7 linked regions of the Homo sapiens genome follow. The protein of the gene in region 5 interacts with the protein of the main gene of each other region in a pairwise test. Each region holds a gene or a part of one and is shown on either strand. Other genes may lie near its edges.

Region 1 (4,449 bases), on a different chromosome or scaffold from region 5:
TGGCATAGAGGGGTAACCCAAGCAGAACATGAAAATCTCACTGAGCAAAGGAAACGGAATTTGAACTTTGTGAAGGCTGAAACAAAAGTACAGATGGGAAGTTACACAGAGAAAGGGTGCCAGAAATCTACTTAAAGGACCCCTGGAGTCTTTAAAGAAAGACCAAGCTGAACATGCTGAGGATGAGAGTCCACAAGGTCAGGCAAAGAAAAATTACCATGGAGAAAACAATTACCAAAGAGCTGTAAGCAGAACAATCCCCAGAGCTCACAAAGGGCTGGAAGACATTCTAGTTCCTCCCAACCAGAATAAAGAAACCTCGCTGAACATCCATGACAATCAGCAGAGAACCCACAAAGGTCATGCCTTAGTAGAAAGGCTAAACCAGTCCTAGAGTAAAGCTATTCTAGGTGCATACGAACAAAACTTAAAAACAATCCTTGAAAAGGATTAAGCTAATTCACAAGTAATTAACTGTATGCCAAAAGGAAACTCAATACTCTCTGAAGAAGTCAACAAAATCCAGCAGTCACAATATAAGTTTCATAGGGTTCAGCATCCAATTAAAAGTTACTAGACATTCAAAGAAGCAAGCAAATGTGACCCATATTCAAGAGAAAAATCATTTAATTGAAACAGAACAGGAAAAAACAAGAGAAAATGAAACAGCAAACCAAGACTTTAACACAGCTATCATAAATATGTTCAAGGAAGGGAAAATGTAAAGATAATGAGGAGATAAACTGAAAAACATTAGAAAGATCCAAACGAAACATCTAATGATAAAAAAAAAATACAGTACCTGAAATGAAAATGTCACTGGATAGGGATAACAGTAAGCTAGACACAGCAAAAGAAAAGGCCAGTCGGCCAGGCGCAGTGGCTCACACCTGTAATCCCAGCACTTTGGGAGGCTGAGGCAGGCAGATCACGAGGTCAGGAGATCCAGACCATCCTGGCCAACATGGTGAAACCCCATCTCCACTAAAAATACAAACAATTAGCTGGACGTGGTGATGAGCACCTGTAATCCCAACTACTCAGGAGGCTGAGGGACGAGAATCACTTCAACCCAGGAGGCGGAGGTTGCAGTGAGCTGAGATCACGCCACTGCACTCCCGCCTGGCAACAGAGCGAGACTCCGTCACAAAAAAAAAAAAAAAAAAAAAAAAAGGCCAGTAAACCTGAAGCTCACGACATAGCAATAAAATATACCCAACCCAAGGCATAGAAAGGAAAAAGGCTAGAAAGTAAGTGAACACAGGCTCATCAACCTGTGAGACATTATTTTAAGGAGACTACCAAAATGAGAGGGAACAGAAAAAAAAAATACTTCGAAAAAAGCCTGAAAGTTTCATATTTGATGGAAACTGTAAACTCACAAATCAAAGCAGCACAATGAACCTAAGGCAGATGCTACACTCTGAATGTTTGTGTCCCCCACCAAATTCTTATGTTGAGATCCTGACTCCCAAGACAATGATAATAGGGGCTGAGGCCTTTGGGAGATGACTGGGAATGGGATTAGTGCCCTTATAAAACATAGCCCAAGAGCACTCCCTTCTGCCATATGAGGTTAGAGTGAGAAGACAGCCATCTCTGAGGAACTGAACCCTCATCAGACACAAAGTCTACCAGCGCCTCGATCTTAGACTTTCTAGCCTCCCAAACTGTGAGAAATAAGTTTCTGTCATTTATAATCCACCCAGTTAGTTTTGGTATAGCAGCCCAAATGAACTAAGACAGTAGAATAAACACAAAGAAATCAATACCAAGACATATCACAATTGATTCACTGAAAAATAATGATGAAAAAAAAAGCCCTAAAAGCATCCAGAATAAAAAGGCACACTACATACAGAGAAAAAATATTACAATGACTACAGAGTTCTCAATATGTACAATGCAAACCAGAAGACAATGGGATGACATTTTACAGTGCAAAAAAAAAAAAAAAAAGAAAACACTATAAACTTAAAATTCTTTATCTAGCCAAGTATCTGAAAAATGAAGATTGCTAGTAGGAACTTCTGAGTTTGTGGTAAAAGAAAAAAAGAATGAAGATGAAATAAAAGAAATTTTCAAACAAAAGCTGAGAGAATACAATGTCTGCAAATCCATATTATAATACATGTTAATGAAAGTTCTACAGACAAAAGGAAAATGGTATTAGACAGAAATTCAGACCTACATAAAATAATAAAGAATATCAGAGATGATAAATCTGTGGGTAAATATAAAAGACTTTCTTCATATGTGTAACTTATTTAAAAGATAACTGACTAAAGTATAAATAAAAAGAATGTATGACATTAAAAATTATAAACAATGTGGGTTTATAACATATGTAGAAGTAAAATATATGACAACAATAGCAAAAAATATGGTAGGAGAAAATGGAAGTATATTTTGGTGAAAGTCTAATTATAAAAGTAAAATTATATATTATTTGAGAGTATGGTAAGTTAAAATATGCATAAGACTTAAAGCAGTCATTAAAAATAAATAAGGTATACCTAATAAGCCTACAGCAGATGAAATGGGATGCTAAAAAACACTCGATCCAAAAGACAGGAAAAGGAAGGAACAAAGGAAAAAAGAACAAAGAAAAAATAGAAAAGGAATAACAACATGGTAGACTTAAACTCATCCATATCAATTATTACATTAAACATAAATAATCCAAACCAGTACTATTCAAAGAATTTTTCTATATACTGTCGAATATAGTAGCCACATAAATTTGGCTGATATAATTTTAATGAATTTTAACAAAAAATTTAAAAGCCATAAACAGCTAACAGATTAGAGAGCACAAAAAACATCTAATTGAAAAGTAAGAGACGTGAGCCAAGATTGCGGCACTGCACTCCAGCCTGGGTGACAGTGTGAGACTCCATCTCAAGAAAAAAAAAAAAAAGGAAGAGGCCAGATGCAGTGGCTCACATTTGTAATTCCAGCACTTTGGGAGTCCCAGGTGGGAGGATTGCTTAAGGTCAAGACTTTGAGACCAGGCTGGGCAACATGGCAAAACCACATCTCTACAAAATATATATAGATCATAGGCTAGAATATAAAATGTCTCAAAAACTTTTTAACAACTGAAATTATACAGAGTACAATAAAATAATAATTAAATCCAAAGTCAATAACCAAAAAAACCTAATAAAATCCACAAATATCTGGAAATTTAAAAACTCATATATATATATCCTGGACGTCGAAGTGCACACCCGTAGTCCCAGCTTTCAAGAGGCTGAGGTGGGAGAGTCACTTGAGCCCCAGGGGTTGAAGCTGCAGTGATCTACTACACTCTAGCCTGGGCAACAAAGCAAGACTCTGTCAATCAATCAATAAATCAATCAATCAATAAAATAAAAAAGAAGAAATTGATAGGCGAGATAAAAAAGCAAGACCCAATTATACACTGCTTACAAGAAATACACTTTCAATATATAAAAAAGGTACATTAAAACTAAAAGAATTTTAAAAAGACGATGAAAACACACAAAAAAAGAAAACTGAAGAGGCTTTATTAATATGAGATACAAGAGACTTCAGACAAGAGTATTACCAAAGATAAAAACGAAAACTTCGTAACAACAGTCAGTTCATCAAGGAGCTGTCTATGTACCTAATAAAGCTTCAAAATTACATAAGGCAAAAACTGACAAAACTGAAAGCAGAAATAGGTAAAATCCACAAAACAATTAAGAGATTTCAATACTATTTTCTCAGTAACTGACTGAACAGGTGAACAGAAAATCATTAACACTAAACTTAATACTATTAGTCAACTTTCCCTAATTGACATTTATAAAACACTATACCTAACAATGGCAGAATACATACTCATTTCAAATACATATGGAATTTTCACCAAAATAGATCATAGGCTAGAAAATAAAATGTCTCAAAAACTTTTTAAAAACTGAAATTATACAGAGTATAACATAATAATTAAAATCAAAGTCAATAACCCAAAAAAAAACTAGAAAAATCCACAAATATCTGCAAGTTTAAAAACTCTTATATATCCATGAGTAAGAAAAAGTAAAGTAAAAAATATTTTGAATGGGACAGCAATGAAAATATAACATCAAAGTTACGTAGAGATACAACAGTGCTATGAGAAAATTTTATAAAATAAATACACGTTAGAAAAGATTTCAAATCAGTGGCGATACATTCATCTTAGAAAGTTAGAAAAAGAAGAGCAAATTAAACACAAAGTATTCGCAAAGAATAAATATAGTTTAAATCAATGAAATAGAAAACACACAACCAGAGAAAATTCAAGGAAACTAAAAGGCAATAAAGAAAGATTAATAAAACTGATAAGCCTCAAGACAGACTGACAGAGGAAACAAACAGAAAATAGAAATTACCAAAATCAGGGATGAAAGAGGGGTATCACTATGGATTCCGTAAACATTAAAAGAACAAAGG
Region 2 (4,449 bases), on a different chromosome or scaffold from region 5:
CGGAGATCCACCTTGCTTGTATTCTTTGAAAGAAATCAGTCATTCCTTTCTGAATCCTTCTGGGCATAAGCCACAGGAAAACAAATTCTATACTTTTCTCTCATTTTATTTTCAAATCCTGGATCTACTACGCTGTCATTACAGAAGTCTATGATGTTTGTTTCCTTCAGAGTAATGGTCCTTAATCATTCTGGGGTTATAGACGCTTTTGAAGAATCTGATAAAAGCCACTGACCACAATTCTTTATCTGAGGATAATGAAGCTGCTTCATCTAGTTCATATATTAGGCTCTCGAAGATTTATATTTTGAGAGGAACAAAGAACCAAATATGACTGAATTATAGGCAGAAGTGGGAACTCAAAGCTTGCATGCAAGTCAGGCAGAGAGGTGGAAGCTTCAGCCCACCTGCTTTGGAAAAACTCCATCCCACTTCCCTGGGTCTCAGTGCAATATGTGCCCTCAGCAAGCCCAGGCTGAATCTATCTGCCCACCTGGACAGAACCAGGAGCCAGCAGCACTACCCACCTGGCTTACCTCATACTCGGAATGGCGTGGTAGCCCAATCGGAAGCGGAGTTTGCTGGACCCAGCAAAATCTACAATCACCTTTTCCCCCACAGTGTGCATATGCTTAAGGAGTTCAAGGTGTTCCCTGGCCACAGCCTTCAGACTGGAAATGGAGGTCCACGGTAAGACCAGCCAATGGTAACGGGCCTTTGGGTATTTATCCTTTATCACCACCACCTGCTCATCTTTGTAAACCTAGCAGAGGGATACAAGAGAAGGAAACAGACATCTACTAAGAATCTTCTGTGTGCCTGGTTGTTATATTCACTAAGTCACTTAATTCCCACAGTCTTGTGCAAATGGTTTTAATAGCCCAGTTTTGAGAGAGGAGAGCACTGAAATTCAGACAGGTTGAGTGTCTTGCACAAGTCATAGTTCCTAAGAGGGAAATCTAGGATTCCAACTCAGATGTGGTTGACTCCAGAGTCTGTTTTCAACCACCACACTACACAGAATACACAGAAGATGCACAGTACAAAATAGTTCCCAAGAATGTGATGTAAAATCTCTGTAGACATAAATTCAAAAGCATCCTTCTCCACTCCAACATGGCAGACTGTGTGACACGTACACGTGGGTTCCAGTGAGCCCTATTAGACCTGCCCCTTGTCAACAAGGAATATAATTGAAGTGGGACTCAAAGGCTCCTCAAGGATGATGCCTGTTTTTTTTTTTTTTTTTTTTTTTTTGAGATGGAGTTTCGCTCTTGTTGCCCAGGCTGGAGTACAATGGTGCAATCTCAGCTCACCGCAACCTCCACCTCCCGGATTCAAGTGATTCTCCTGCCTCAGCCTCTCGAGTAGCTGAGATTACAGGCATGCACCACCATGCCCAGCTAATTTTTTGTATTTTTAGTAGAGACAGGGTTTCTCCATGTTGGTCAGGCTGATCTCGAACTCCTGACCTCAGGTGATCCTCCCGTCTCGGCCTCCCAAAGTGCTGGGATTACAGGGATGTCTGACTGTTAATGCCAGGGCAGCACAGTACTACTGTCACAGTGTATTATCTCTGATGCTCCCCTGAAAGGAACCATACTAAGGTTAATGCAACTTCCCTTAAAGTACCCAGAAGTTTAAAAGGCACAAGGCAGAGGGGATATTCATTTGAAGAACTCAGCTTTCTCTCCAAACAATGACAGCTGCTACTTTATTGCCAATGTGAAAAGCCTCTTGTTCTCACAGAACAGCCCAATAAAATGAATCTCATTCAGAAAGACTGATATCCTTTGATTTCATTTGTAATTAAGACCTCTGTGGAGTGGTCATTTACAACATGAAATGTACTGAAATTCCAAAATTGTATTCTGACCTGCATTTTGGGGTCCTGCATAGAAATCTTCAAGCCTTGACTCCAGTGGCCCAGGGATTCCTAAAAAAAAAACAAAAAAAAAAACAAAAAAAAAAAAAAACAAGCAATGTAAATTACAAATGCCAATAATTAAATTTGGCAACAGTTAATACTGTGTGATAGCACAACTAAACTTGGAAATAAGCTTAGTTTTTGAGAATTAAACAAGATTCACTTGACTCTGCTTCACTCCATTGCCTTCCTATATTCTCTTTTTTTTTGAGACAAAGTCTCACTCTGTCTCACCCAAGCTGGAGTGCAGCGGCGTGATCACTGCAACCTCCGAAGTGATTCTCCTGCCTCAGCCTCCCAAGTAGCTGGGATTACAGGTGCCCACCACCACGCCCAGCTAACTTTTGTATTTTTTAGTAGAGACGGAGTTTCACCAGGTTGGCCATGCTGGTCTTGAACTCCTCACCTCAGGTGATCCACTGGCCTCCACCTCCCCAAGTGCTGGGATTACAGGCGTGAGCCACCACACCCGACCCTATATTCTTTCTTTTTTTTTTTGAGATGGGGTTTCGCTCTTGTTGCCCAGGCTGGAGTACAATGGCGTGATCTCGGCTCACTGCAACCTCTGCCTCCCGGGTTCAAGCGATGCTCCTGCCCAGCCTCTGGAGTTGCTGGGATTATAGGCATGCACCACCACGCCCAGCTAATTTTGTATTTTTAGTAGAGATTAGGTTTTGCCATGTTGGTCAGGCTGGTCTCGAACTCCTGACCTCAGGTGATCTGCCCATCTCGGCCTCCCAAAGTGCTGGGATTACAGGCGTGAGCCAGCACACCCAGCTGTTTTTTATTATTGTTGTTGTTTTTTGAGATGGAGTCTCGCTCTGTCGCCCAGGCTGGAGTGCAGTGGTGCAATCTCAGCTCACTGCAACCTCCGCCTTCCAGGTTCAAGCAATCCTCCCGCCTCAGCCTCCCGAGTAGCTGGGATTACAAGCATGTGTGTACCACCAGGCCCAGCTAATTTTTGTATTTTTAGTAGACATGGAGTTTCACAATGTTTGCCAGGCAGGTCTCAAACTCCTGACCCTCAAGTGATCTGCCCACCTCGGCCTCCCAAAGCGCTGAGATTACAGGCGTGAACCACTGCACCCAGCCAGCCTTCCTATATTCACAGCTGGCTGTTCTAAATGAAGGCGAGAAATGCCAGAGTATGAGTCATACCTTCTTTGCCCTCTCTCACTGCAGCTACAGCCTGACCAATTCTCCACTTTGACATCAGCATATGAATTACATGATCTATGAAAACCTTCTATAGATGCATAAACAACTGATCCACTTTAGTTGTTCAATGTTAAGTACACACTGCCATTATTGTTGTACCTTCAGGTGGCTTACCTCAGGAATTTAAGAAAAAAGCACATAAAGGAACATTCATCCAAATGATTTTCACGCCACAAACAAGTGACTCTTTCATCATGGTTAATAACCCCTCACGCATTTCTGAACTTTAAAGTGTACAAAACAATTAAGCAGTCATTATATTTCATTTCTTCTCCACATCATCTACCAATCACACTACCCTCACCTTTTTGATAGGTGCATCTTTTCCCTTCTTTAGGGGCACAGAGCATTGGCCAGAGTTGCTCCCAGGTTCCAGCCCTGTCCCAGCCTCAGCTTCCTGAGCAGCATCCCTTTCTATAGAATCACTGTTGCCTGATCTCTTTCTCTTCCTGTGTGTTTCCAGGCCAGGGTTCTTTGCCTCTTCCTCAAACTCTACAATATATGGATAAAGTTCATTCACCATGTGGAGAACCTGGCCAGGCTGCAGCTTCACCTCTTGGTCCTTCCCAATTACGACTGAGTCAATGCTGGTGGGATTGACTCCTACCTATGGAATAAACAATCAGAAAATAATTATAATAATAGCAACAGCACCTACAGTAAGATAGCCACTGCTATGTTAACCACTTACTATATGCCAAGCACCTTGCCTTATGTTCACCTATATTACTCCATCACTTCCATACATGACAGAGAAGCCTTCACTGGCTGGCACAGACACTCTAAAGTCAACAGCATAAGAAAATCATCGAGTATAAAATTCCAAGTTATAAATACACCTACCTGCTTTACCTTGACATATCCCTTGTTACACTCTGCTTTCAACTGTACTGAAAGAGATTGGAAAAAGTTAAACACAAATGCAACAAAGAACCAGGCACTTGCTCCTATCTTCCCTAAAGAAAACAAGCTTCACTACAGGCGGCAGCTGAACAGGTGGTGTTTCCTTAAAGGCCTATTAGCAATCACCTGTTATTGCAGGTGGCTGGAGCTCCAAATCCTACCAATTTCTAAAGGTTTAAATCCTTCCATAAAATGTCCAACAGCGTACATACTCCCTTAGCTATTGCCAAGATCCCTATGAGGCAGCTTCAATTAATCCCCACAAGTTTCCCTATTCCAGAACCCCTGGCCTGCTCATGATCACAGACTCTGCCGCCAGAAAAGAAGACCTGTTTCTCCCAGCCTGGGCAGCATGGCAATACCCCGTCTCTACAAAAAAATACAAAAATTAGCCAGGTGTG
Region 3 (3,305 bases), on a different chromosome or scaffold from region 5:
GTGCTCGTCTGTAGTCCCAGCTACTTGGGAGGCTGAAGTAGAAGATGAACGCAGGAGGCAGAGGTTTCAGTGAGTCGAGATCTCGCCACTGAACTCCAGCCTGGGTGACAGAGCGAGACTCAAAAAAAACAAACAAAAATTGGTAAACTCTAATTTAGAATTAGTAGAATTAGGAGGTAAGATCTTACACATTCCTCAAATTTGTCAAGATTTTGCATTTTAATTTCTAAATCCCTTCCAGGAGTTAAACATCAGTATAAATTGGGGTAACTGATTTAACATAAACCAGTGTTATAGCTTATGTCAAAACTATCTACTTAGATTACAATCTCTTTTAAGGACAAGGCCACATCATTAATTTTGATTCCCAAGTTTACAAGCACTATGTCTAGTACAGAGGAGAGTGAGAAGGAACAGGGAAAGGGATAAAGGGTATGAGGTAAGATGGTAGGAAGAAAAAGGGTATGTGTGCAGAGTATGTGTGGGTGCAGAGTATGCAGGGTCTCGTAGGCCATGATAGACATTGGACTTTAGTCTGATTGTGATACAAAGCCATTGGTGATTTTGAGCAGACAAGTGGTATGGTCTGATTTATATGAATATACACACATACACACATATTTTGTTTTGCTTGAGACGGAGCCTTGCTCTGTCGCCCAGGCTGGAGTGCAGTGGCATGATCTCAGCCACTGCAACCTCTGCCTCCTGGGTTGGAGCGATTCTCCTGTCTCAGCCTCCTGAGTAGCTGGGATTACAGGCATGCACCACCACACCTGGCTAATTTTTGTATTTTTAGTAGAGATGGGGTTTCACCATATTGGCCAGGTTGGTCTCAAACTCCTGACCTTAGGTGATGCACCTGCTTCGGCTTCCCAAAGTGCTGGGATTACAGGTGTGAGCCACCGCGCCTGGCCTAATTTATATTTTAAAATAAGGATCACTCTGAATGCTATGTAGAGAATAAACTATATGAGGAAAATATAGAAGCAGGGTACATACCAAAGAGTATGCCAAGAATGGGTGCACATGCTCACTGAAAGACAGATGTGATCATTTTCATAGTAACTTTATTCATAATGACCACAAGCTGGAAACAACCTAAATTTCTATCAACGGTAGAATGGGTAAGTTGTGATGTAGTCACACAATGGAATACTACACAGAAGTAAAACATGAACTGCTACTACATATAACATGGATTACTCTCACAGATACAATGTTGAACAAGACACGGAAGAGTGCATATAATTATTTCACTTACATAAAGTTTTAAAACAGGCAAAACTAATCCGTGGTGATAAAAGGGGTTGGTGGGGGCCTGGGGAACATAAGGACACCTACTGAAGTGCTAGAAATATTCTATATTTTGACCTGGGTGGTGCATTCAAGGGCATATATAAAAACCCACTGAGGTGTACACTTAATATCGGTACACTTTTAAATTTTACCTCAGTAACAAGTTGAAAATATATTGGAAGAAAGCATATAAATGAAGATGTTAATCAGTGGTGTTGTCTTCCAAATATTTCTGGTTTTTCTCCCAGGTATATGCAAGGATCACACTCCTCCTAGAACTTTAATGTGGCTATGTGATTTGCTTTGGCCAATGAAAGTCCTTTAAGAGTCCTTAAGTGATTTGCCATACTCTTTTTTCATTTCCCAAAGTTAGCACCCACACTCCTGATGGTATCTGCTTTGTCAGCCTGAGACCCAGAATGAAGGCAACTTAGAGCACAAATTGGTGAACTTTCTCTGTAAAGGGCCACAGAATAAGTATTTTAGGTTTTGTGAGATGTACACACTCTGTAGCAACTACTCAGCTGTGCCATTGTAGAACCAAAGTAGCCACAGATAATAAATAAATGGACAAGGCTATATTCCAGTAAAACTTTATTTAGATAAATAAGGAGCTAGACAGATTTTGCCCATGGACCATAGTTTGATCATGGCCAACCTATGATCTAAACCAAAGTCCCTAGGCAAGTTGCAATAGAAAAGTTGTGTGAGACAGTGAGATTTTGCCTTTGTTATTCAATGGCAAGCTAGCCCATGCTGACACAGAAATTGGTCCCTTGTTTTTTAAAATGCTAAAATACTGAACACTGGCTTAATGGTTAGCTGGCAGGCATTCAGGAAATTGCTATCAGAAGATGGAAGAAATAACTTACACAAGGGTAATTTATATTATGGAAAGGTGAAACTGCCCCTTGAGATAACCTGAAAGGCAGATCATCTACCCTTTACTAAAGAAAAAGACAGAAAAACAAAATATTTTGTAGTTGCTGTTCACTGCACTTGACAAAACGTACAGAAGAGATGAACTCAGAAAAGACTGGTCAGTTTGCAGGCAAAAATGAAAAGGAAGAGAATTCAAATTCAAGTACTTACTGGGTAGGATGAGGCAACATTTTAATATCAAAAAGAAAGATAAAAATGGGAAATCCTTTTACAAATAAATAAAAAGAGAAATCCTTTAGCCAAAAGGTTGATTAAAAGCCAGTTTTGCCGCCGGGTGCAGAGGCTCACACGTATAACACCAACATTTTGGGAGCCCGAGGCGGGCGGACTGCTTGAGTCCAGGAATTCGAGACTAGCCTGGGGAATACAGCAAGACCCTGTCTCCACATAAAAATACAAAAATTAGCTGGGTGTACTCGTGTATACCTGTATTCCCAGCTACTTAGGAGGCTGCAGTGGGAGAATTGCTTGAGCCAGGAAGGCAGAGATTGCATTGAGCTGAGATTGTACCTCTGCACTCCAGCCTGGGTGACAAAGTGAGACCCCGCCTCAAAAAAAAAAAAAAAAAAAAAAGCCAGTTTTGCAGCAAGCACCAAATCACTGGATGACTATGACACCTACTGTTAAGATCTCTGAATGACTTAATATGCCTCAGACTAAAACTCCAACTAAGATTATACTAGTTAATCCCATAAATTGGTCAAAATGGCTTAAGGAAACAGACTAAGGGTGTGGCTTTCCCACCTAAGCCTGAAAAGCCTCAGTTACCCAGAAATTAAGTTCAGAGAGGCATGGGAACAAGAAGGCAAAGGAATACAGCAAACTTTAGAAGTATACATTAACTAGATGTCACTTTTGGGTCATCTCCCTTTGGGTGATAAGGACATTCTGCAGGTGTAAAAACAAGTGAACTGAATATATAGTGACCAGAAGGGCTGAGTCAGTCTTCTACTTTGTTAAATTTACTTACTTTTAAATCCCAGAAGAGCCAAAAATCATCTGTAAAGGAAAGTAGCAAGTAAATAGCATGCCATTTTCTCCTAGTGTTGATGCCTACAAAAGGAAAA
Region 4 (4,449 bases), on a different chromosome or scaffold from region 5:
GTTTAATGCAGAGGTAGAATAGACCCCAGAAATAGAGGTTCTATTCAATTTTGGACATAACTTAGTTTCAGATTATAGTGCTTTCAAAACGTCATGGGGTAAAAAAAATTACTAAAGAGGAAAAAAAAGAGTTTTCATTATTTGTTCCACGAAAGAGAGCACTTCCATCTTTCTACATGAACGTATTAGAAGACAAGATGATATAAATGGGAGTAAAAATTTCTACTTTGTGGCTAAGGAACAACTTAGGACATAAAAATTAGGAGACATGTAAGTCACAGAAACACCTCTTTCTCAGTTTCAAATAAATAGTCACAGAAACAACCTTAAGTAACTCCAACAATGATAGTCTATTATTTCACCAGGAAAAACCTGAAACAAGACTACCACAAAAGCCACGGCTTGGATAAATGTTCATATGGTGGAGACCATATGGAGAGGTGTCTGGCTCATCTTTGGAGAAACAAAGGCACAAGAAGAATGAAGGTACACTGACAATATCTCAGGGCAACAAAAACAATTATTTCTTTCCCGAGAATGTGCAAAGCTGTTAGAGAGAAAAAGAGTTGCAGAAGCAACCAGGTGAATTTTTTTAAGAGATGTAAACTCATCAACTCTGAGGGGATAGACAAGAGCCGCCCCAGGATCAATCATAAACACACACACACACACACACACACACACACACACACACACACACACAGCATGCATGAAATCAAATCCACGACCAAAACATATCAAACTCTGAAAAAATTTTAGAAAAATAAAGAAAAGGACAAGCCATCTAAGGATCCAATTACACTACTGACTTGGGCAATACTTCACATTCCAGTGCAATGGTCCTAATTAGAGAGAAAATAATTTTTTAAAAACATACCTTTGCAAGAATGTGCTTGTCTTTTATAATATACTCATAAGTAGTCAAGAGGACATTGAATTTGCCACTCCGTAGCTGGGGGACAAGGGAGCGACGCATGGCAGGAGTACCCTGAATGGAAAGAAAAAAATACATGCATGATCCTATGGACATATATGTGCATTATTTCTCACTTTTCATAGCTTAATGATGCCCAGACATGTGACTGAAGAATGCACAGACACACATTCTCATAGACTGATCTATTATACACGAGGAAGTTTTGGCTAAATTACACGTCTTGACCCTTTTCAGATCTTTTTTTAGAAAGGTTTTCCCACCAAAGACAGTGGGAGGGCAAAGGGAAATGGAAATGACAGTGAATTTGTGGTAGTAGAGAACCCACCGCTCTGCTGAAAGGCTCCAGTTCTGTTGAGAAAGTACAGCAGGCAGCCCCGGGCATCCGGGTAATTGCCTGACTTTGCAGGAACAGTCAGCACAGTAGCAGCCCACAGCGAGCCAGTCAGCAGCACGCAGAATGTGTGATATTTGTCATTTGTATTACTCTCATCAGAAACCTTGCAATATGATAATTAACAATTTTCTTCTGGATTTCACTATCTGAAAGTAATTATGGTTTATTACAGTAATCTTCTTGGGATGATTAACTCTCACGGTTTAGTACATGATGTACATGACAAAACTTTACAACCAAATACAGTTCACAGATGTGCATATGGAATGAAGAAAATAGGGTCTATTTTTTGCTTTTCCACATTTATATATAAATACAGCATTCCAAACCTTGTAAGAAATCTTCACCACAGAAGGAGCCCATTTGTCAAATTCATATGTCCAGTTAGATAGAGTCCTATGGAACAAAAAAAAAAAACAACAGAAAAAAGACATTTGTATAAAAATCAATGGTTAAAAAGATGTTCTTATTCATGTTCAGGCCTCACCTTGAAAGGGGCTACAGAATATAACATATCTCAACAAGATATTTATTTTAAAGGTGTGGAAATAGGAGATAAGTTCAAAACAAACTGTCACAAAACATGACAAGTTTGTGGTTCATAAAAAAATCTTGTAAGAAAAAAACTAAAGAATACATAAATATAGAGAGCAAAAAACTAAACTGTAATATGATATTAAAAAAGAGCAATTGCCAGAATGATTTTAGGAATCTTCATAAACAGCCATATAGGTTCAGAAAAAAGATGAGTCAGGAAAAAGAAATTATAAAACCACATGAAAACATAAAATAAATCTGTCAAGAGGGAACAGGGGAAGAAATATTGAATGACGTTTTTTAAAGCCCTGAAAGTGTCACTGTATATATGATTCAGAACACGCAAAATATAGATCAAATGCAAAAGATGCCTAAATATTACAGATACAGATAATTCATACAAAAAGGGCTGCAAATAGTCTTCATTAGAAAAAATTCAAAGAAAACACAATAATATTAATAGAATCCTTCTTCTTACTGAAGGTCCAAGTTCATATCAGCATTGAGATCTATAACAAGACCTTGGTGAACAAAACTGCAACCTAACACCCACAGGCAGACACACTGAACTCCCAGGAGGGTGCTTGTGAATCACTGTGCCCTCACTCGGTAGTGCCCACTTAGGACCTTCTAAGAACCACCTAGCAGGTGAGGCACTGGGAACGTAATGGCGAACAGCAAACTCCTGTCCTTACTAAGCAGCAAACTCATTGAAACATAACCTCAGTGCACATACTAAGGTTATTTTAATGCAAAACTCCTAGTTATGATTTTGATTTATGTTCTGCTTTTAAAAGGAAGATTTAAGAATATATCATCTTTTGGAAATGGAATAAGGAAAAAATCAAAGAAATCACACACACACACACACACACACACACACACACACACACACACACCTTTCCCCTTTGTGAGCCACTTAAGGAATAATGATGAGCAAGACTCACTATGCAGTGTTCAGGCTGTGCAGACCTGTAATGCTGATGGCCGATAAAATCACTCGGTCCCGTGCTTAAATAGCCAATCAAACAGGCTAGGATGGGGAGGGGTGGGAAATTAAAACCTAAATCCAGATTACATGCTCTTGGTAATCTGGATTTAGGTTAGTACATGCTACAATTCTGTCTTAAGTAAAAAACAAGGACAAGCTACTAATCGGGCACTCTACAACATACAGAACGATGACTGTGGAATAAATGACTTTACTTACGAAAGGGGAACAATGATGAGATAGGGGCCATTGAGTCTTTTGTGCTCCATCAGATAAGTGATGAGTGCAATGGTCTGTATGGTCTTTCCAAGCCCCATTTCATCGGCTAAGATTCCGTTCAAGTTGTTATTATACAGGGAAACCATCCATTCCAGGCCCTGGAGCTGAAATGAAGAGTAATTGCTTCAATTATCCAAGATCTGCACAGGTAATTAATCCTAATACAACCCAAGTGAGGGTGTGACTTCTTAACTCCTCACTGCTGTATGTTGGGTTTCCCACAGTAGGAAAATGGGGGAAGCACCAATGCAAAAAGAATGTAAAATATGAGCCTGATCATTCTCTCCATGAGTAAGCTTTCTCTCTTCTTGCTTCTTGACAGGTGAGTTTTAAAGCAGCTTTGCCGCTCATCCACACTTAGTATTTCACAGTATGTGACATTCTAGAATTATTATAAATGAAAAAAGCCCAAACCAAAATCTAATCCAACCACTCCAAGAATAAAAAGCCAATGTGAAGGCAGATTTGGCACACAGATCACAGATTATTAAAAACAGCCTTTTCGGTAATATGGGTGAGGTCCCCTCAGTGAAAAGGCGGACTGACCAGGGAGCCAGGGACACTCTGCTGGGACCACAGGAGGACATTTCTCTTCCTGGCAGAGAGAAAGTTCCCAGACAGCACATGGGAACTTTGTAATGTGAGTACTACCCAAAGGCTGCACACTGGAAGCTGGCAACTGGAAACATGCTCAACGTATTTCTGAAGTACAAAAACACTGTACCAGAGATTCCCCACGTTAAGTACAAAAGTAAGGTTGGGTGAAAATACAAAATTGTTAAACCTCCATCCCCCAACCAACAATTCCCTTCCACCATCATACCACAGATGCTGGATTTAAATGATAGGATCAATTATATATATGTTTGCTAAAGTCAATTTAGCTTGCTAATGATGTTATGCTTAGGGAAATGTTAATTTTTTATGTAAGAACAAAGCAAGCAATTAGTTTATTTAAAATATTTATTAAATGACTATTCTGTGCAAGGGGCCATGCAAGGAGCTGTAGCAGATAGATACCAAGGTCTGTAAGATGCATGCCTCCCTTCAGAAGCTCAAATAAAAGAGAAAACAATGAATGAGGCACATATACACATATGCCAAGAAGTGGTTGACAGTGCCAATGTATATGTATACATATAAAACTGTATTGACAAGAATTTTTCTTAGGGAGACACCGCATTGGTTTGAAGCAATACTTCCATAAGCCACTTGAGATACTTTGTACCATGCAAGATTCCAAAGTCATCCTAAAGGTTTCTGCAGAACTACAACAACAACAAGAGATAAGTAGAGAAACAGGAAGAACCT
Region 5 (4,449 bases):
GAAGGGTCAAAGCACAGTAGGTTTAAAGAGATAAGACATGGTACAAACACTTTAATAAGATTATAAATTTCCGGATGCAGTGGCTCACACCTGTAATCCCAACACTTTGGGAGGACCGTTTGAGGCTGGCAGTTTGAACCAGGCTTGGCAACATAGAGAGATGCCATCTCTACAAAAAATTTAAAAATTAGCTGGGGGCAATGGCACGTGTGTGTAGTCCCAGCTACTCAGGAAGCTGAGGAAGGAAGATTGCTTGAGCGCTCTGGGCAACAGAGTGAGACCTTGTCTCAAATAAATAAATGATAAGTATATAAATAAATAAAATTAAAATTAAAATATCCTAATTTTTTCTTCTTTTTCTTTTTTTGAGATGAGGTCTCACTATGTTGCCTAGGCTAGTCTTGAACTCCTGAGCTCAAGTGATCCTTCTGCTTTAGCCTCCCATATAGCTGAGATTACAGGCGCACCACCACACCTGCTAGAATTTCATAATTAAAAGAAGGAAGTGGGAAGTATCAACGTATGAAGGGCTAGGAAGTGAGACTCCCTACTCTACTCTGGGGCAGGACTTGGCAACAATTTTTGGCCCTTTCCCTCATAATTAATTCAGCTGTCCCTCCACAAAACTAGTACCACGTATCATTTGTCCCCTCTTGGGACTGGGAGACTAGAGTTATGCCCAATGGAATGGGGCCAGTCTGAGTGAGCTATGGCCATGGAAAAAAGGATTTATTTTGCTGAGGCAGTTATTATTTGTAAAGTCCACCGATTTTTCTCCCCTGATGTAGGCCTTAGGAGCTGAACTTAGTACTTCCCTTGGGAGGGAGCTAGATTTCCAAAGAAGGAATCTAGAACACAGTTCTTGCTGGGCATGGTAGCTTATGCCTGGAATCCCAGCACTTTGGGAGTTAGAGGTGGGAGGATCACTTGAGCCCAGGAGTTCGAGGCTGCAATGAGCTATGATCTCACCAGTACACTCCAGCCTGGGCAAGAGTGAGACCCTGTCTCAAAAATAAAAATAAAAATAGAACATAACGGAGAAGCTTAGCTCAAGGGGTAAGGCGTACTGGAGGGTTGGGCGGCGGGAGAGTGGTGCTGAGCAGCTGGTTGGCCTCATCCCAGTGGGCCTGCAGCATGGCCTGCAGTCTTTCCACCAGCTCCACCCGCTGCTCCTCCAGCTGCTGGTTCCCACTCTGCAGTTCGCACACTCGCGCTTGCTCCCGGGCCAGTCTGAAGCAAAGAGAGAAGAAGTGACTCAGGGCCTTTAAGGAAGCAGATACTTGGGAGCTAAAAAGAGCCAGAAGGGAAATGTTGGACATCTGATATTCTGAAAGGAGCTGGGGCCCATGTAGAGGAGGACAGATCAATCAAGGGAGCAGCTCTTCACCGTTCCCAGTTTGGGCTCTACCCATGGGAAAGGGGCTGGGGCCTGAAAGGGGCACTCTGGGGACCAGGACCTGAGCTCGTAGTCCTCAGCCACCTGCTGTTGCCGTTCCTCTCGTTCTGCCATTTCCACCTTGAACTGAGCTAGCTGACTGGCCAGCTCCTGCTGGTGCTGTCCACTCAGGTCCTGCAGCTGCTTCCTACAGGGCACAGGTAGGAGAAGAGGCCTGAGACTGGAGACAGAAGAAGTGACCAACTGAGAAAAAGACATCATGTGTGCACATGACAGTGACCCAGATAGCCAGTCAGCTAGCCTGGCCATGGCACAGGAAGCGGCAAGGACAAAGCTGGGGTCTTAGGATGGGTTCCTCAGAAGCAGAGACTTAAATAAATTTATTTCGGAAGCAGTTCCAGAAAATCTCGGCAGCAGAATGGGTGTGAGGAGAAGTGAGGCCAGGCTGCGAGGAGGCTCAGTCCGACAGAGCAGCTCTGGAGACAGCACAGGTCATACCTCAGCACTGTCCCAGTGAGGGAGCTGGACCATCTATCATTCTGCACCCATCAGTTCTTGGTTAAGGGCTACTCCCTATGGGATGAAAATTCCCAGGCACTTCTGGCTCTCCATGAACGCGTGAAGGCAGCCCTCCCGAGAGAGACTCAGGTCCCAGCTGATGGGAGTTAGCGCACCCTGGGAGTCACAGTGCTGGACCATGGCAAAGGGATTGAAGGGAACACAGGCCTGGCACTAACGATACGTGCTGTGGCTGAGAGAAGTGACACCCAGTGAGTCCCACGTACCTGTGATGTTCCCTGAGGGAGGCTGCTTGCCGTAGGCTGCTCTCCTGAGCCTGCGCCAGCCGCTCTGTCACCCGCTGCTCCAGCTGCACAGCCAGCTCCGACTCCAGCTGGATCCGCTGGCTTTCATACCGGGCCTGGAGTGAAGGAAGGTGGGATAACGGCCCAAATCTGTTTGGGCTTAGAAGAGGATGGAGGATATAATGTAGACAAAATCCAGTACCAACTTTCCCCTCATATGAGATGAAGAACAAGAATTTTGCCTCAAGGAGTGAAAGAGGTTCCCTTTCCTTATTAAGATATTCGCACTTTAAACATACATCAAAGTGAAAATGACTATGGGTGAAAGACATAAATTTCTTAGCTAAAATAAATGTTCGACAGAGCAATCAAATCCATTCTACGTGTCTGATATAACATACCCTGAGGCTGGGCGCGGTGGCTCACGCCTGTAATCCTAGCACTTTGGGAGGCCGAGACGGGCGGATCACGAGGTCAGGAGATCGAGACCATCTTGGCTAACACGGTGAAACCCCGTTTCTACTAAAAATACAAAAAATTAGCCGGGCGTGTTGGCGGGCGCCTGTAGTCCCAGCTACTTGGGAGGCTGAGGCAGGAGAATGGCATGAACCTGGGAGGCGGAGCTTGCAGTGAGCCGAGATCGCGCCACTGCACTCCAACCTGGGAGACACAGCGAGACTCCGTCTCAAAAAAAAAAAAAAAAAAAAAAAAAAAAAAAATACCCTGAGTAGAGTACCTGAAAGCCAGTAGACATTCAATAAATGGCAGTGCCTCTTCCTCCTTAAGCAGTCAACCTATAAGTGTCTCCATTTTCTCAGCCACAGTCCTTCAACTCACTAAAATCTGATTTCCACGTATAGTATTTTACTATAAAGAACTCAACCTCTTTTTTTTTTTTTTTTTTTTTTTTGAGATGGAGTCCCTCTCTGTCACCCAGGCTGGAGTGCAGTGGCGCGATCTCGGCTCACTGCAACCTCTGCCTCCCGGGTTCAAGCAATTCTCCTGCATCAGCCTCCCAAGTAGCTGCAACTACAGGTGCGTGCCACCACGCCCAGCTAATTTTTTGTATTTTTAGTAGAGACGGGGTTTCACCGTGTTAGCCAGGATGGTCTCAATCTCCTGACCTCGTGATCCACCCGCCTCAGTCTCCCAAAGAGATTACAGGTGTGAGCCACCGCGCATGGCCCAAAGAACTCAATTTCTAAATCCAAATAGTGGTTATTTCTCAGCCCCTACTTCTGAGACAGAGTCTTGTTCTGTTGCTTAGCCTAAAGTGCAGTGGTGTGATCATGGCTCACTGCAGTCTTGACCTCCCAGACTCAAGAGATCCTCCCACCTCAGCCTCCAGAGTAGCTGGGACTACAAGCTGGTGCCACAACACCCAGCTAATATTTTTATTTTTTGTAGAGATGGGGTCTCATTATGTTGCCCAGACTGGTCTCAAACTCTTGGACTCAAGCAATCCTCCCACTTCAGCCTCCCAAAGTGCTGGGATTACAGGCGTGAGCCACCACACCTGGCCCTTTCTGTCTTTTTTTTTTTTGAGACTCGGTCTCGCTCCTGTCACCCAGGCTGGAGTGCAGTGGTGTGATCACGGGTCACTGCAGCCTCTACTTCCAGGGTTCAGTTGATCCTCCCACCTCAGCCTCCCGAGTAGCTGGGACTACAGGTGCATGCCACTATACCCGGCTAAGTTTTTGTATTTTTAGCAGAGTTTAGGTACTGCCATATTGCGCCCAGGTTGGTCTTGAACTCCTGGGCTCAAGCAATCTGCCCGTTTCGGCCTCCCAAAGTGCTGGGATTCCAGGTGCGAGCCACCACACCCGGATGCTTTCTTAGTCTTTATCGCATGTGATCTCATTGTAACACCTGAAGCCCTAGGTCAATTCTTTTTTTTTTTTTTTTTTTGAGATGGAGTCTCACTCTGTTGCCCAGGCTGGAGTACACTGGTTCAATCTGGGCTCACTGCAACCTCCACCTCCCGGGTTCAAGCGATTCTCCTGCCTCGGCCTTCTTAGTAGCCGGGACTACAGGTGTGCACCATACACCTGGATAATTTTTGTATTTTTAGTAGAGACAGGGTTTCACCATGTTGGCCGGGCTGGTCTCAAACTCCTGGGCTCAAGTGATCCACCCGCCTTGGCCTCCCACAGTGCTGGGATTACAGGCATGAGCCACCATACCGGGCCAAAGGATTGTGGTTCTCAAATGCTGGCCTCACTGGTACCTCCTTAAGTTAACCATTTATAA
Region 6 (4,449 bases), on a different chromosome or scaffold from region 5:
GTACAGTGGCTCGATCTCAGCTCACTGCAACCTCTGCCTCCTAGGTTCAAGCGATTCTCCTGCCTCAGCCTCCTGAGTAGCTGGGATTACAGGTGCCCACTACTATGCCCAGCTAATTTTTTGTATTTTTAGTAGAGACAGGGTTTCACCATGTTGGCCAGGCTGGTCTTGAACTCTTGACCTCGTGATTTGCCCACCTCGGCCTCCCAAAGTGCTGGGATTACAGGCGTGAGCCACCACGCCCAGCCCCATGTTACTGATTTTTAATTGTTCTTTATATATTGTGGTTAAAGTCCTTTATCAGATTAATGATTTACAAATATTGTCTCCCATTCTGTGGGTTGTCTTTTAACTTTAATAATAGTGTCTTTTGAAGCAGTAAAGATTTGGATTTGATGAAATCTAATTTATCTTTTTTTTTCTTTTATCACTTATGCTTTTGGTGTTATATCTCAGAAGTCTTTGCCTAACAGGCTGGGCCCTGTGACTCACACCTGTAATCCCAGTATTTTGGGAGGCCAAGTCGGGTGGATCACCTCAGGTCAGGAGCTCGAGAACAGCCTGGCCAACAGGGTGAAACCCCGTCTCTACTAAAATTAGCTGGGCGTGGTGGTAGGCACCTGTAATCCCAGCTGCTTGGGAGGCTGAGTCAGGGAGGCTGAGTCAGGAGAATGTCTTGAACCTGGGAGGTGGAGGTTGCAGTGAGCCGAGATCACGCCACTGCACTCCAGCGAGAGTCTGTCTCAAAAAAAAAAAAAAAAGTTCATGAAGATTTACTCCTATATTTGCAAAGAGTTTTATAGTTTTACCTCTTACTGTTAAGTCTTTACTCCATTTGGAGTTAATTTTTGTATATGGTGTGAGGTGTAGAGATCCAACTTTATTCTTTTCATGTATCTATCCAGTTGTACCAGCACTGTTTATTGTTTATTGAAAAGACTGTTCTCTTCCCATTGAATTATCTTGGCATGCTTGTTAAAAAAAATAATTCACATATATAAGAGTTTATTTTTGGACTCTCAACACTATCCCATTTTTCTATATATTAATTCTTTTTTTTTTTTTTTTGAGATGGAGTCTCGCTCTGTCACCCAGGCTGGAGTATAGTGGTGTGATCTTGGCTCACTGCAACCTCTGCCTCCCAGGTTCAAGCGATTCTCCTGCCTCAGCCTCTCGAGTAGCTGGAATTACAGGTACTTATCACCAAATCTGGCTAAATTTTTTGTATTTCTAGTAGAGACAGCGTTTTGCCATGTTGGCCAGTCTGGTCTCGAACTCCCGACCTCAAGTGATCCGCCCACCTCGGCCTCCCAAAGTGCTGGGATTACAGGCATGAGCCACCACGCCCGGCCTCTATATGTCATTTCTTATGCCAGTACCACCACGTTGTTTTGGGGAGGGCTTTTCCCCAGCTTTATTGAAATATGATTGACAAACTAAAAATTATATACATTTGAGGTAAACATCATGGTGTTTTGATATAAGTGTACCTTTTGTAATGATTCCCACAATAGAGCTAGCTCACACATTCATCACTTGACATAATTACCATTTTTGTGTGTGTGATGAGAACATCTGAGATCTTAACAAATTTCAATTATTTTCTATAGTTACCATGCTGTATATCTCTAGAACTTATTTACCTCATAACTGAAAATTTTTAAGTACAACACTTTTGATTACTTTTACTTTAGTTTTATAGTACATTTTAAAAATGGGAAGTGTGAGTCCTCCAACTTCTTTTTTAAGATTGTTTTATTTATTCTTAGTCTCGTATTTCCATCTTAATTCATCCATAATAAGGATCAACTTGTTAATTTCTGCAAAAAAACAGCTGAGTTTTGATGGATATTACATTAAATCGATACATCAATTTGAGGAGTATTCTATCTTAATATTGAGGCTTTTAATCTATGAACATGGAATGTCCATGTATTTAGATCTTTAATTTCTTTCGATAATGTATGATTTTCATTGTACAAGTCTTGTATTTCTTTTGTTAAATTTATTCCTACATATTTATTCTCTTTATCCTATTTTGAATCAGTGTTTTCTTAATTTTATTTTCAGATTATTTATTGCTGACATATAAAAATACAATTTTATTTATTTATTATGTATCCTATGGCCTTGCCGAACTTATTTAGTCGTTCTAATTGGGGGGGGCGATTTATTTGTTTATTTATTGTGGAATCCTTAGGATTTTCTACATAGAGGGTTATGTCAGCTGATAATAATGTTTTATTTCTCCCTTTCTAATCTTCATGCCTTAATTTATTGTTCTTGCCTGTTGCTCTGACTGTAATATCCACAACTTTGACTACAGGTGGTGAGAGAAATCATTCTTGCCTTGTTTCCAATCTTGGAAAACATTCAAACATGCTCCATTAAGTATGATATTAGCTTTAGGTTTTTGTAAATCAGGATTTTTTGGTTTTGTTTTTTAATTTTTAATTTTTGTGAGTACATAGTAGTAGGTGTATATATTTATGAGATACATGTGATGCTTTGACACAGGCATACAATGTATAGTAATCACATCAGAGTAAGTGGGTATCTGTGTCCTCAAGCACTTATCATTTCTTTGTGTTAGAATTATTCCAATTCTACTCTTTTAGTTATTTTAAAATATACAATAACTTATTGTTGACTGTAGTCACCCTGTTGTGATATCAAGTACTAGATCTTATTCATTCTATCTAACTACGTTTTGTACCCATTAACTATCCCCACTTTTCCCTCCCTGCCCAATACCCTTCCCAGCTTCTGGTAATCATCATTCTACTCTCTGTGTTCATGAGTTCAGTTGTTTTAATTTTTAGCTCTCATAAATGAGTGAGAACATACAAAATTTGTCTCTCTCTGCCTGGTTAATTTCTCTTAGTATAATATCCTTCAGTTTCATCCATGTTGCTGTAAATGACAGGATTTCGTTCTGTTTTGTGTGTATATCTACCACATTTTTTTATCCATTCATGTGTTGATGAACATTTAGGCTGATTCCAAATCTTGGCTGTTGTGGATAGAGCTGCAGTACACATGGGAGTGCAGATATCTCTGATATACTTTTCTTTTGGATATATATGGAGCAGTGGGACTGCTGGATCATATGGTAGTTCTTCTATTTTTAGCTTTTTGAGGAACTTCCATACTGTTCTCCACAGTGGCTGTAATAACTTGCATTCCCACCAACAGTGTATGAGTGTCCCCCTTTGTCCACATCCTCACCAGCATCTGTTACTGCCTTTTTAATAAAAGCCATCTTAACTGGGGTGAGATGACCTCATTGTAGTTTGATTTGCCTTTCTGTGCTGATCAGTGATGTTGAGTATTTTTTCATATACTTGTTGGTTATTTGCATGTCTTTTGAGAAATGTCTATTCAGATCTTTTGCTCACTTTTTAATCAGATTATTAGATTTTTTTTCCTATTGGGTTTTGTTTAAGCTCCTTATATATTCTGGTTATTAATCCCTTGTCAGATGGGTAGTTTACAAATATTTTCTCCCATTCTGTGGGTTGTCTCTTCACTTTGTTGATTGTTTCCTTTGCTATACAGCAGCTTTTTTACTTGATGTGATCCCATTTGTCCATTTTTGTTTTGGTTGCCTGTACTTTTGAGATCTTTCTTAAGAATTCTTTCCCCAGACCACTGTCCCAGAGAGTTTCCCCAGTGTTTTCTCTTGGTAATTTTATAGTTTCAGGTCTTATATTTAAGTCTTTAATCCACTTTGATTTGTAAAATCAGGCTTTTATCAGCCTTTTATCAGGTTGGGGAAGTTTTTTTAATCATGATTGGATAATGGATTTTGCCAAATGTGTTTTCTGCATCTATCAAGATGATCAGATGGTTTGTGACCACATTCTACTGTATAGTGTATTATATTAATGAGTTCAGATGTTAAACCAACCTTCCATTTCTAGGATAAACTCCCCTTGATCATAATGTATTATCCTTTGTATATGTTGCTAGATTTGGTTTGCCAATATTTTGTTGAGGATTTTTGTGTCCATATTCATGAAGGGTATTCATTTGTTATTTTCTTGTGATGTCTTTGTCTGGCTTTGGTATCAGGGTAATACTGACCTCATAGAACAAGTGAGAGTTTCCTTCTCTATCTTCTGTTAGAGTTTTCAAAATACTCATGTTGTTTCTTCTTTAATGGTTTGGTAGAATACATCACTGATGCCATCTGAGCCTGGGCTTAACCTTGTATAAATATTTTTAATTACTAATTTAATTTTTTTACTTGTTATAGATCTATTCAGATTTTCTATTTTTCTGTTATTTTTTTATCACTATTTTTTTGGTATTTTTTATCTTTTTAGAGTGTTTTTCCAGTGCGTTAGCTTACATATGGGTAAGTTTGCTTCTTAACTAGCGTACACTTTCACTAGTTAAGAAACTAGTCATAATGGCTTCTTTTTTTTAACTTTTTTTTTTTTTTTC
Region 7 (4,449 bases), on a different chromosome or scaffold from region 5:
GGCACCCCCTATGACCTTGCCAAAGCAGTGTCAATAAAAGCCAGTGGAAACAGAAGGTTTAGATAATATCCAGAGCCTAGGAACATAATATGAAAATATCTAGTTTTAACAGAAAATCATTCATCCTAGCAAGAACAAGATTTAAAACAATGCAAAAGATAGGCTGGGTGCAGTGGTTCACGCCTGTAATCCCAGCACTTTGGGAGGTCGAGGCAGGCGGATCACTTGAGGTTGGGAGTTTGAGACCAGCCTGACCAACATGGATAAACCTGGTCTCTACTAAAAATACAAAATTAGCCGGGCGTGGTGGCACATGCCTGTAATCCCAGCTACTAAGGAGGTTGAGGCAGGAGAACCACTTGAACCCGGGAGGAGGAGGTTGCAGTGAGCCGAGATCAGTGCCACTGCACTCCAACCTGGGCAACAGAGCAAGACTCCATCTCAAAACAAAAACAGAAACAAAAACAAAAACAATGCAAAAGATAATCAATAGGTGCCAAAACTTAGATGACAGAATTACCTGACAAAGATTTAAAAGCAGCTATGATAAAACTGAACAGTGGAAATTACTCGATCTGAATAGAGAGAAAATAGGAAAAACAAAATGAAACAAAAAACAGAGCCTTATAGACCCGTGCGTGAGACTATAGCAAAATCTAACACGTGTGTCACTGGACACACATGTCAAAAAGACAGAAGAAAGAGTAAAGCTGAAAAAATAAAGAGGCTGGGAGCAGTGGCTCACGCCTGTAATTCCAGCACTTTGGGAAGCGGAGGCGGGAAGATCACTTGATGTCAGGAGTTCGAGACCAGCCTGGGCAACATGGTGAAACCCCGTCTCTACTAAAAATACAAAAATTAGCCAGGCATGGTGGTGTGCCTTGTAGTCCTAGCTACTTGGGAGGCTAAAGTGGGAGTAATCGCTTGAACCCGGGAGGCAGAGCTTGCAGTGAGCCAAAATTGCGCCACTGCACTCCAGCCTGGGCGACAGAGTGAGACTCCGTCTCAAGAAAAAAAAAAAAAAAAAAAAAGAAAAAATATCCTGGAAGCAGAGAGAGAGAGAGAACACTGCATTTATAACGACAATTAGACTGACAGTGGAGTTCTCATCAGAAACCACAGAACCCAGAAGATAGTGGCATAGTATTTTTCAGGTGCTGACAAAAATGGAAGGGAAGTCAAGACATTCTCAGACGAGGAAAAATTGAGAGAATTTGTTACCAGCAGACCCACTATAAATAAAGAATGGCTAGAGGAAATTAACTAAACAGAAAATAAATAAATAAAAGAACCTTAAAATATGAGATGTAAAAACACGGTAGCAAAAATATGAGTAAATACAATCGACTTTCCTTCTCTTGAATCTTCTGAATTTTGTCTGATGGTGAAAGTGAAAACTATAATACAGTTAGATGTAGTTCTAAATGTGTGTAAAGGAAATAGTTCAGAAAGGCCAAGGTGGGAAGATCACTTGAGGTCAGGAGTTCAAGACCAGCCTGGCCAACATGGTGAAACCCCATCTCCACTAAGAATACAAAAATTAGCAGGGCGTGGTGGCACGTGCCTGTAGTCCTAGCTACTCGGGAGGCTGAGGCAGGAGGATCACTTGAACCTGGAGGCAGAGGTTGCAGTGAACCCAGATCGCACCACTGCACTCCAGCCTGGGTGACAGAGCAAGACTCCATTTCAAAATATATATATATATATGTATTTGACACAAGTATAACAAAAAATTAACACTTCTGATCAGCCGGAAAATCACACAATAAATAATCCCCAAAATATTATCATGTCTTTTTCATCCTCAGTTTAATGGGATCAAGTATTTCCTGCATTTATTTCTCTCCCTAGTTCCTGATAGACCTGTTACAAAGGTTTCACAGCAAAACTCCTACTAGCTAGCCCATAAAAGTCTCCTCATTTTATACCTCCACCAACAGATTTCATAGGAATCTCATGAATGAAAAAGGTCTACTTGTCTTTTTCTACAGTACAATGAAATACAGCCTGTGTAGTGGCACTTTTGGTGAGAAGGCAACAGGGAATGTATGTAGCCCAATGAATAAGAACACGTCAAAGGAAAAGTCAATGAATAAAACAAATCATTCTGACCCCTACTAATCCCTTGGAAGTGACATACACATTTAGACCAGTCATTCACACTAACACACAACTACTATCATCAATAAATTCAAAAAATTATTTTAAAAAATGCTTCAGAAATATTTTAAGAAAAACATTTCCATCATTCAAATACACTAAAAACACCTCTCGTCACCCTAGATATATTTGCTTTTGCTGAAGAGATTTTAATTCATTACGGTATTTAAAAGGTTACAGAAACCAATATATTGCTATTTCACCATAACTGTGATACATCTGAGTTGTGAGGCAATCAGATTCCTTATTTAGAAAAATAAACTTATGCTAAGCTAACTAAAACCTTCAAGGTAAAAACTGAAGTTTCAAGAACAATTAAATCAACCAAAGAATAATTTTGGTTCCATATAATAAGATCTTCTGATATACATGAAATCATACTTTAGTATATAAACATGTATTCATGCCCTCTCATTTCCCCTCTAAGAAGCATTTCATTTAAAAAAGTTATACAGAAGCTTAACTAGAGGCATTAGCTGTGCTTTTTCTGTTTAGACAATTAAGGAACTGACATCAAACATGAAAACAATGCTTTGACACATTTCTGACGAAGAACAGCAATAATTAAAAATTTAATAACAATTAAATTTAAATTAATTTTAAATTAAATTTTAATAACGTTGCTTTGTTTTGAATTCCTATTTAGAGTTACTATTTAAAGGATATAATGGTTTTCTATTTATAGTAGCAAAAAATTTCCTTTAAAATAAGCTTATTTAAAGGAGTCAATTTAAATTGTATTAAATAGAATTAGTAAGTGCACAGATATGGCAAACATCTGAAAGTGTAAATGCCCGTATTTGGCTGACATTAGTATATCACATGGCTAGCAAGTATTAGCCTGTGTTCTAGTTCTAGCTGTCTTTGAACAAAGCAATCTGTTTCCTCATCTCTGAAAATGAAGGGACTAAAGTGGAATAAAGGGAATTTGGGAGCTGGAAAAAATATAAGCGACCATTTGGTCCTGACATAAGAATTTACAAGTAACGTGCATAACACTATAGATTTAGTTCTATTGCGTCTATAGCAAAAGAACAATTTTTTTGCTTAGACAAGAAACTAAAAAACAAGAGTACGGCTGGCATATACCCTCCATATAATTTCTAGAGCCCTTGGTCAAATTAGCCAAGAAAAACAATATATTTCCAATCAGACATATTCTTACTCTGCTTAGATCTCTTAGAAGGCCTTATCTGGGGATATTTTATCAGTGACATCAAAGTTTCAATCACAGGAACACATTCAATCTTGGCTTCTACTTCTGTATTTGATAATCTAAACCCAAAATAAAACACTTTTGTAGTACCAGTTATTTATATACATAAATGACCCAAGATAGTTTTCAAAATTTAAAAATGGCATATAATCAATCAATATACAACTGGCCTTATTAAACTGCAAATAAAATGCTGTGACAGCTATTCTTCCTGGAACTTTTTTTTTTATGTGTTCTCTGAAGAAAGATTCATGATCTTCCCAAAGGTTTATACTCTTTAACAAAGACCAGTACCTAGACAATGCTTTCCTACTCACTGTCTTTATATATTCTCTCTATATTTTAAAATCTGAGTAAAAGAATTCTTCAAAATGAATTCCTAGGCTGGGCATGGTGGCTCATGCCCGTAATCCCAGCACTTTGGGAGGCCAAGGTGAGAGGATCACTTGAGGCCAGGAGTTTGAGACCAGCCTGCGCAACATAGTAAGACTCCCGTCTCTACAAAAGATTTAAAAAAAAAAAAGTAAAAACAGAAAACATTAGCCAAATGTCATGGCATGCACCTATAGCCCCAGCTACTCAGAAAGCTGAGGTGGGAGGATCACTTGTGCCCAGGAGTTTGAGGCTACAGTGAGCTGTGATCCTCCAGCCTGGGTGACGGAGAGAAACTCTGTCTCAAAAAAAAAGAAAAAAAAAAAAAAATTCCTGAAGTCATGTACTTGAGAACTTTAAATGAGTATGTACATAAAAAACATCCGAATGTCTCGATTACTGGCTTCATTTGTTGGTCTTCAATTAAGTTAGTTTGACCTCATGTATTCAGCCCTATCCCAATGTTATCTAGCACCAAGAACATGAAATAGCACCATTAATTCTACTCAAGACTAGAAGAAATGCTAAAGAAAATCTTCCTAATAAAACTGTCTTCTATTTTATCTATTACTTTGAAACTTTGCTTGATACTCGAAAGCATGTTGCTCTCATTAGCAGGAACTAAACTTCCAGAGTTAAAAAAAAATTTTAAAATAAACATATTCTGGAATAGTGTTATTTTCTTTGTGGGCTGGGAGAAC

Evidence for each region.
Region 1: the proteins of CNTROB (region 5) and CWF19L2 interact in binary tests that used the Homo sapiens proteins (3 or more experiments, as listed by UniProt).
Region 2: the proteins of CNTROB (region 5) and APTX interact in a two-hybrid assay, tested with the Homo sapiens proteins (one large-scale study listed by BioGRID and IntAct).
Region 3: the proteins of CNTROB (region 5) and EPM2AIP1 interact in binary tests that used the Homo sapiens proteins (3 or more experiments, as listed by UniProt).
Region 4: the proteins of CNTROB (region 5) and SMARCA2 interact in a two-hybrid assay, tested with the Homo sapiens proteins (one large-scale study listed by BioGRID and IntAct).
Region 6: the proteins of CNTROB (region 5) and TTC23 interact in binary tests that used the Homo sapiens proteins (3 or more experiments, as listed by UniProt).
Region 7: the proteins of CNTROB (region 5) and PELI1 interact in binary tests that used the Homo sapiens proteins (3 or more experiments, as listed by UniProt).

The regions. Positions count from the first base shown.
Region 1 is NC_000011.10:107,447,196-107,451,644, forward strand, and holds part of CWF19L2 (CWF19-like protein 2), read right to left. Parts: intron 1-4,449.
Region 2 is NC_000009.12:32,984,095-32,988,543, forward strand, and holds part of APTX (aprataxin), read right to left. Parts: intron 4,036-4,449; coding exon 3,989-4,035; intron 3,753-3,988; coding exon 3,450-3,752; intron 1,937-3,449; coding exon 1,877-1,936; intron 764-1,876; coding exon 537-763; intron 1-536. UniProt on the Homo sapiens protein: DNA-binding protein involved in single-strand DNA break repair, double-strand DNA break repair and base excision repair.
Region 3 is NC_000003.12:36,983,993-36,987,297, forward strand, and holds the end of EPM2AIP1 (EPM2A-interacting protein 1), read right to left. Parts: 3' UTR 1,051-3,305; downstream 1-1,050.
Region 4 is NC_000009.12:2,080,625-2,085,073, reverse strand, and holds part of SMARCA2 (SWI/SNF-related matrix-associated actin-dependent regulator of chromatin subfamily A member 2), read right to left. Parts: intron 3,243-4,449; coding exon 3,079-3,242; intron 1,728-3,078; coding exon 1,661-1,727; intron 989-1,660; coding exon 878-988; intron 1-877. UniProt on the Homo sapiens protein: ATPase involved in transcriptional activation and repression of select genes by chromatin remodeling (alteration of DNA-nucleosome topology).
Region 5 is NC_000017.11:7,941,257-7,945,705, reverse strand, and holds part of CNTROB (centrobin), read right to left. Parts: intron 2,316-4,449; coding exon 2,182-2,315; intron 1,584-2,181; coding exon 1,458-1,583; intron 1,231-1,457; coding exon 1,068-1,230; intron 1-1,067. UniProt on the Homo sapiens protein: Required for centriole duplication. Inhibition of centriole duplication leading to defects in cytokinesis.
Region 6 is NC_000015.10:99,242,133-99,246,581, reverse strand, and holds part of TTC23 (tetratricopeptide repeat protein 23), read left to right. Parts: intron 1-1,071; 5' UTR 1,072-1,193; intron 1,194-4,449. UniProt on the Homo sapiens protein: Participates positively in the ciliary Hedgehog (Hh) signaling.
Region 7 is NC_000002.12:64,109,238-64,113,686, forward strand, and holds part of PELI1 (E3 ubiquitin-protein ligase pellino homolog 1), read right to left. Parts: intron 3,436-4,449; exon of another isoform or gene 3,326-3,435; intron 1-3,325. UniProt on the Homo sapiens protein: E3 ubiquitin ligase catalyzing the covalent attachment of ubiquitin moieties onto substrate proteins. Involved in the TLR and IL-1 signaling pathways via interaction with the complex containing IRAK kinases and TRAF6.